2 linked regions of the Homo sapiens genome follow. The protein of the gene in region 1 interacts with the protein of each later gene in a biochemical or structural test. Each region holds a gene or a part of one and is shown in the gene's direction. Other genes may lie near its edges.

Region 1 (3,749 bases):
TTCTTGATTATTAGCTGACTTGTTTGGTGACAGGCTGTCAAGAACACGCAAATTTCATGGCCATATAAAAATGATCTCGTCAACGTCTTCCCTCGAATTGAAGCGGAGGATTTAGTTGTAGATTTGGTTTGGCACCTTCCACTTTAAGGAAGATGTAAAAACTAAGGCGCAGGTACTCCAGCTGCAGGGAGTGTTTTTTGTCCCCGCTCCCCTGTCCCCCATAAAGAAACAGGACCTCAGGTGGTGGGCGGGCGGGGAAGGAGAAGGGATGTTTCTAAGTCTACAGGGGAGAGTGTAGAAAGAAAGAAGGAAAAGGTAAGAGGACTCCACAGTTTCTAGGTTTTGTTCTTCTTTTTTTCCCTCTGGACAGCGGTGGCAGCTGATCAGACACAATAGCTGGCAGTCCCCGGCCGCAGTGAGGATAAAAATGACCCTCAACAGCACCAGCAGGAGCACCGAGAAGGGGAGGGGAGTGTGTATGGGAGGGGGCGAGGATGAGGGTGACAAGGTGACAAACGCTGCCTCTGACTGCGAGCAACTCCCCCTCCAGCCCCGCGAGGCTCGGAGCCGGGGAGCCACCTCCCCGGAGCGGGGCGGGGTGGGAAGGAGAGGCCGAGGGGGCGGTGGCCTTCACCCGGGGGCGGGGAAGAGGGCGGAGGGAAGCCTGATTTACCAGCCCCTGATTGGTTCGCGTTCTCTCGTCGCGTCTCCCGATTGGGTAATTTGCAGCGGGAGATGTTGTGAGGCACGGCGGGGCGGAGCGAGCTGCCGGGGTCTGTGACAAGGCCCGGGAATTGGGTGGGGAGGGTGGCGGTTGTGCCGCGGCTCCGGAGCCGCTGTGACCTGGAGTGTGGCGGACAGAGAAGCGCAGCCGCCTCTCCACAGTTCCGCTAGCCGCGCCAAATTCGCTCAGCCGCTCTGCAGAATTTATAAAAGGGAAAGAACTGAATGAGCAACGCTTGGCTAACTTCCCCCTTCCCACCACAGGAAGAGATTTTTGCTGTGAGGCGTGAGGGGACACTCCCTTATCTGGAAGTCCCACGTCTCGTCGCAGCTTCATTGCCTTCCCGCTGCAAAAAAGGGGTGGGGGCACAATTTGCCAAGCCCTGTCCCCCAATCTAGGACCTTTGATCCCTGGAGTCTGCAGATGTCGCTGTTATAGGCTTGTCCCCCTCTCCACCCCAGACGTCTACCACCAGGTCTCCTTTCCCGGGAGCAAGCCCATCCCTGGACGCTGCCGTTCAGCGCTTGGGAGACTGCAGGGGCGGGGAGCGTTGTGTGCCTGGTTTTGGGGTGCTGGGGGGCGAGGGCTTGTAGGTCCCGCGACCCACGGGGAGGGGGCAGGCGAGCACCCCGCTCCGGCCTCCGGCTAATCCCCCTTCTCCAGCGTCGGTTCCCCGGTCCCGTGTTATTCAAGACAGAAAATATTCAGCCCCAGAGCCTCCCCTGGGGAGGGGAGGGGAAGGAGGTGGAGTGGGAGGAGGTGGATCCAGGGAGGAAGAAGCGAGAAATCCGCCCCCGGGAAACAGCTCCGCGCGGCCACGGAGCGAGGCGCTTCTGTCACTTGGCGTTCGCGGGCGCCGGAGCTGGGCCCCGGCCCGGCCCGGCGAGGCGAGGGGAGAGTCCGGCGGCCGCCGCCCCGCCCCACGCCCTCCTGCGGCGGCCGAGAGCCCGGGGCCGGCCGGGGCAGGTCGCGGCGGTGCCTGGGAGCGGCCGGCCGGGGGCGGCGGCCTCGGAGCGCGGCGGCGGCGGCGGCGGCGGCGGCGGGCAGCGCGGGATCGTCCGGCTGCGGGGTCCGGCTCACGCCGGGCGGGCGGGCGGGGCGCGCTGTCCCGGAGCCGGCCAGCCCCGTGCGGATCCACTCGTCCCGCTTCCTCTGGTGCGTGTCTGGTTTCTTTTCCGTCTCAGCCGAGAGGGCGCTGCGCTCGCGGGCCGTGGAGTGCCCGGCTTGCCGCGGGCTCTCTCCCTTCCCGCCACAGGCCACCCGGCCGGGCGCTGGCTCGGGGCCGGAGGGAGCCCGCGGCGGGCGCCCGGCGGGGGCGGAGGGGCCGCGCCCGCGTGTGCGGAGCAAGGGCGGGCGGCGGGGCGGAGGGAAGGGCACAAAGGCCGGCGGTGGGCGCTGGGGTCCGGCCGGCCAGCCTTGGAGGAGGGGCGCCTGGGGCCGCTCATGAATATTAACCGAGCCTGCGGCCTAGCGCGTCCCGGCCGGGCCCGGCGCCCGGCCAGCGTCTCCGCTTCAGCTCGCCGCCGCGCTTCGGCCGCCGGGCCCGAGCGGGCGGGAAGGGTAAGGCCCCCGGTTTTGTCTCGCCCCGGGGCTCCTAGCACCTTTGAGAAAGTCCATATTGGGGCCGCTCTCCTCGGGAGCTCGAGGTCCCCGACCCGCCTCAGGAAGGGGCGGGGGAATCGTGGGGAGGTGGGTGGTGGTTTGCTTTTTCTCGTTTTTTCCCCCTAGGTGGCCACAGGGGAAGGGAAGCCGTGTCGAGTGGTAGTTGGGGGAAAAGCCGCGACTTCAGAGTTGCTCGGGTGTAGCTCCAGAATCATGCCCTGGAGCGGGAGCGGCGCCGGCGTCCCACCCGCGGCCGCGCACGCCTCCCCGGCCGTCCCCACCCAGCCCCGCCGCGGGCCAAGGAAAACAGCCGCCTCCTCGGGGACGCCGGCCGGGGCGGAGGGGCGGAGGGGCGGCGCCCGAGTCACCCGGAGACGCCGCCGAGCCCACGCCGGCCCCAGCCAGGCTGGCTTTGTGCTTGCGTTTTTGGGGGGCGGAGGGGAGCGAAGAGGGGGCTTGGAAAGTGTGATCCCATTTCAGCCTCGTGGGGGAGAAAACTTCACCGAAGTGTCCCTGTCTGGGTGATGCAGAAAACAACATGCACAGCCCTCTGCTCTACCCAGGAAAGACATGAATTAAAATGCACTTGAATGGGGAACATTTTTTCTTGAAGGCTGCATAACAGCCAGGTGTGTTTGACGCAACCGCTGGGCAGTTTCGAGATTTCTCTTTTTTAAACACCCCCTCGAATTTATAGGCTTTTTGTTTGTTTACGTTAAAATTTTTTTTTGTTTGTTTTGCTCGGGAGGAAACGCGAACTTGGTGTGGACATGTGGGCAAGACAGTGATAGGCGCCTGGAGAAAGTTCATGACCTTTAACTTCTCGTTTTCCTAGGATCTCTCTAGGAGCTGACACTCGAACCTTCACGACCCATTCGGATTTTTCCAGGACTCAGGAGTGGCACTGGGAAGAAGGGGACCGCTTTCTGCAATTGGCCTCGACACTGGCTGCCAAGAAGACCTGTCGCCTTTGTTTTTAAGTCTCCAGAAATGGAAGAAGAAGGCGAAGTCAGTTGAAGTCACGAGAAATCAGCGAGGCATTTGAAGGCGCTTCCTGAAAACCTTTATTCCCTGGCACGTTGTCTGTTTCAACAGCCCTGCCCCTCCTCGGAGCCTGCTTGTGGAATTCTTCCCCTTCGGGTGTGTGGTGGCATTCCCCGCCACGTCCAATGTGGACTCCAAAGGATTTGTCCCTTCTTTGTCATTTGAAATGAAATGATGGCCACGCGTCGGACTGGTCTGTCTGAGGGAGATGGTGACAAGCTCAAGGCCTGCGAGGTAAGCGCGGAGCCAGCGTTCCTGGCCGGCAGGGCGGTGGCCTGTGTCTTGAGCGTCCTGCAAGTTGGGGGTTACCGGCCACGGGGCCTCACTAGGGGCTTCCCGGGGCTTTGAGCCTGTTGGCGGGAGCGCCCCAGCTTAACCA
Region 2 (3,649 bases), on another chromosome or scaffold:
GCATCCAAAATGTCATTGATATATAGATTACTTGGTGATCTTTCAGATAAAGTTTTAAATGTAGTTCTTTAATTTCAGAATATGAGATTATTTACTACCTTGAAATCTGGAGAATTTTTTTCTTAAGAAACTACCATGTATAGACCTTTTATATTGGTTTCTTTTTTGGCTTAAAGGTCAGGATTTAAAACTGTTTAGGAAATACATTTCAGATCTGTGACCTACTTTTTTTATTTTTTATTTTTATTTTATTTTATTTATTTATTTATTTATTTATTTATTTATTTATTTATTTATTTATTTTTGAGACGGAGTCTTGCTCTGTTGCCCAGGCTGGAGTGCAGGAGCATGATCTTGGCTCACTGCAACCTCTGCCTTCTGGGTTCAGGCAATTCTCGTGCCTCAGCCTCCCAAGAAGCTGGGATTACTGATGCGCATCACCACACCCAGCTAATTTTTGTTTTCTTTTTAATAGAGACGGGTTTTGCCATGTTGGCCAAGCTGGTCTCGAACTGCTGGCCTCAAGCAGTCTTCCCACCTTGGCCTCCCAAAGTGCTAGGATTACAGGCATGAGCCACCTTGCCAAGCCTGCGACCTACATTTTATTGTTACTGCTAATTTACAAACTTTTATTCTCAAGGACAAAGTCAAGTCTATGTTATGCCTTCCATGCATATGTGCTTCATAAAAGGGAATAAAATTATAGCTTGTTATATTTCTTTTATGTAAATTTCAACAATTTTTTTTTTTCCTTTTCCTCTTTTTTTTTTTTTGAGATGAAGTCTTGTTGCCTAGGCTGGAGTGCAGTGGTGTGATCTCAGCTTACTGCAACCCCTGCCTCCTGGGTTCAAGCGATTCTCCTGCCTCAGCACCCCAAGTAGCTGAGATTACAGGCGCCCACCACCACGCCCTGCTAATTTTTTGTATTTTTAGTAGATGCGGGATTTCACCATGTTAATAACCAAGCTGGACTCTAACTCCTGACCTCAGGTGATCCACCCACCTCAGCCTCCCATAGTGTTGGAATTACAGGCGAGAGGCGTGGCGCCGGGCCGACTTAACAATTCTTAAAGCAAATCCAATTTACTACCCCTGCATTGTATTACCCATAGTGCCCCAAAACAAAAACAAGTTTTGTCAGTCCTGTCCCCTTTATACCACATTACAGAGGGCGTTAGTGGCATTTGGCTTGATTGATAAATCAGGGAATCCTTAGGAAGAAAAGAGTTCCTCTTTCAGGAATTCATTGTGAAGATAATGTTACTTGTTATTTGCTATATAGAAAGGGTAAACTTAACATATAGCTTGTTTAGTGTGCATACTCATTAGTGAATTTAATGTATGCACACTACTCATTCAACAGAGTGAGTAGAGAGAACAAGCATTCATTTTTGGGCTGGGCATGGTGGCTCACGCCTGTAATGCCAGCACTTCGGGAGGCCAAGGCGGGCGGATCAGAAGGTCAGGAGTTTGAGACCAGGCTGACCAACATTGGTGAAACCCCATCTCTACTAAAAATACAAACATTAGCTGGGCATGGTGGTGTGTACCTGTAATCCCGGCTACACAGGAGGCTGAGGCAGGAGAATCGCTTGAACCCAGGAGGCGGAGGTTGCAGTGAGCCAAGGTCGTGCCATTGCACTCCAGCCTGGGCAACAGAGTGAGACTGTCTCAAAAAAAAATTCATTTTTGTTTTGGGATGAATTTGTGTTTCATGTTACTAGTTCCTTTGTAAATGATAAATTTGTTCAACTGCTAGAAGTAATTTCCTAATTGAGAAAAGTTTTCCTCCCATTTTATTAGATTACAGAGAATGGCAAGGTTTGCTTGACCTTTTAGTTTTGGCTTTTTGATTTTTATTAAATTGAAGACTTTACTAAGGTCTGTACAATATAAAAAATTATCCGAATGTCTTGATCGGCTGGCTTTTTCTCCCTCAAGAAACATTTAGATAATTCTATAAATTTATTTACTACTTAACCATGCTCTAAAATTTACTCAGCTTTCAATATGTTACTTGCAAGACGTAATTTTTTTCACTTGTTAATTGGAACTGCATATAAAAACTATGCCCATTTCTGACTAGTCAATTCAAAAATGTTTAAAACCACTGTTGTGGTATTCTTCAAATGTAGCTTATATCATCTTAAGAATGATTGCTTTTTCTTCACATACGGCTATCGGTGGAGGGATGCTAAAAATTTAAAATTTTATGGAAGTTGGCTTGTCTCTGTACATGCACATATAGAGAGATATATACATAATGGTTTTATATTGTGTTATTTTAAATTCATTGAAATTAATTTTGCAGGTTGGAAAGGGCAAAGAAATTACAAGAACAGCGAGAAAAGGAAATGGTTGAAAAACAAAAACAACAAGAAATAGCTGCAGGTAATTTTTTTCATTCTTTTTTAGTCATCTCGATTTGAGCTCTTTCAAGCTTTTTTGTTTTTCACAGGGATTTGCTCTGTCATTCTGACTGGAGTGCAGTGGCTCCAGCATAGCGCATGGTAGCCTCAAACTCCCAGGCTCAAGTGATCCTCCCACCTCAGCCTACCGAGTAGCTGGGACTGCAGGTCCCACATCACCATGCATGGCTAATTTTTTTCTTATTTTTTGTAGAGAGGACCTTTCACTATGTTGCCAAGACTATTCTTGATCTCGGGCTTAAGCAGTCCTCCTGCCCCAGCCTCCCAAAGTGCTGGGATTGCAGGCATGAGCCACTGCACCCAGCCTAAGTTTGACATGCTTTTTGTAGAAAAATTGAAAAATATAGAAAATAATAGGAAGAAAATCACCTATGATTCCTACTTCCCATCAGTACACTGTAAACGTGTATTTTAGTGTTCTCACTTAAGTGTTTTGTAGCTTGTTTCTGATGTGGTCCATGTGGATAATTTTTGTTGATAAATTAGTAATGAGTATGTTTGTTTATGTAACACTAGTCATCATGACAGATCTTGTTGTTGTTGTTACGGAGTCTCGCTCCATCGCCCAGGCTGGAGTGCAGTGGCGTGATCTCAGCTTACTGCAACCTCTGCCTCTTGGATTTAAGCGATTCTCCGCCTCAGCCTCCCCTGTAGCTGGGACTACAGGTGTGCACCACCACATCTAGCTAATTTTTGTATTTTTAGTAGAGACGGGGTTTCACCGTGTTGAACCAGGATGGTGTCGATCTCTTGACCTGGTGATCGTCCTTCTTGGCCTCCCGAAGTGCTGGGATTACAGGCATGAGCCACCACGCCCGGCCCCAGATGTCTTTTACGATTTTGGAAATGTAGTTTATGCAAGAAAGTGAACTGATCTGAAATATGTATTTCTCTTTCAAGAAATCAAGTTTTTATGCGTAACAAACATTGCAGATTTCAAAAATTATCAGGCCTGGCTCAGTGACTCACTTCTGTAATCCCAGCACTTTGGGAGGCCAAGGCAGGTGGGTCACCTGAGGTCAGTAGTTCAAGACCAGCCTGGCCAACATGGCAAAACCCCATCTCTGCTAAAAATACAAAAATTAGCCAGGCGTGGTTGTGTGTGCCTATAGTCCCAGCTACTCAGGAGGCTTGAACTCGGGAGGTAGAGGTTGCAGTGAGCCAACATCACGCCATTGCACTCTAGCCTGGGTGACAGAGTGAGACCCTGTCTCACGAAA

The links. The genes of interacting proteins can lie anywhere in the genome.
Region 2: the proteins of ARHGAP21 (region 1) and RSRC2 interact in a test that uses a peptide from one of them, tested with the Homo sapiens proteins (one large-scale study listed by IntAct).

The regions. Positions count from the first base shown.
Region 1 is NC_000010.11:24,721,692-24,725,440, reverse strand, and holds the start of ARHGAP21 (rho GTPase-activating protein 21), read left to right. Parts: upstream 1-1,553; 5' UTR 1,554-1,879; intron 1,880-2,219; exon of another isoform or gene 2,220-2,284; intron 2,285-2,692; exon of another isoform or gene 2,693-2,955; intron 2,956-3,161; 5' UTR 3,162-3,541; coding exon 3,542-3,604; intron 3,605-3,749. UniProt on the Homo sapiens protein: Functions as a GTPase-activating protein (GAP) for RHOA and CDC42. Downstream partner of ARF1 which may control Golgi apparatus structure and function. Also required for CTNNA1 recruitment to adherens junctions.
Region 2 is NC_000012.12:122,509,851-122,513,499, reverse strand, and holds part of RSRC2 (arginine/serine-rich coiled-coil protein 2), read left to right. Parts: intron 1-2,311; coding exon 2,312-2,391; intron 2,392-3,649.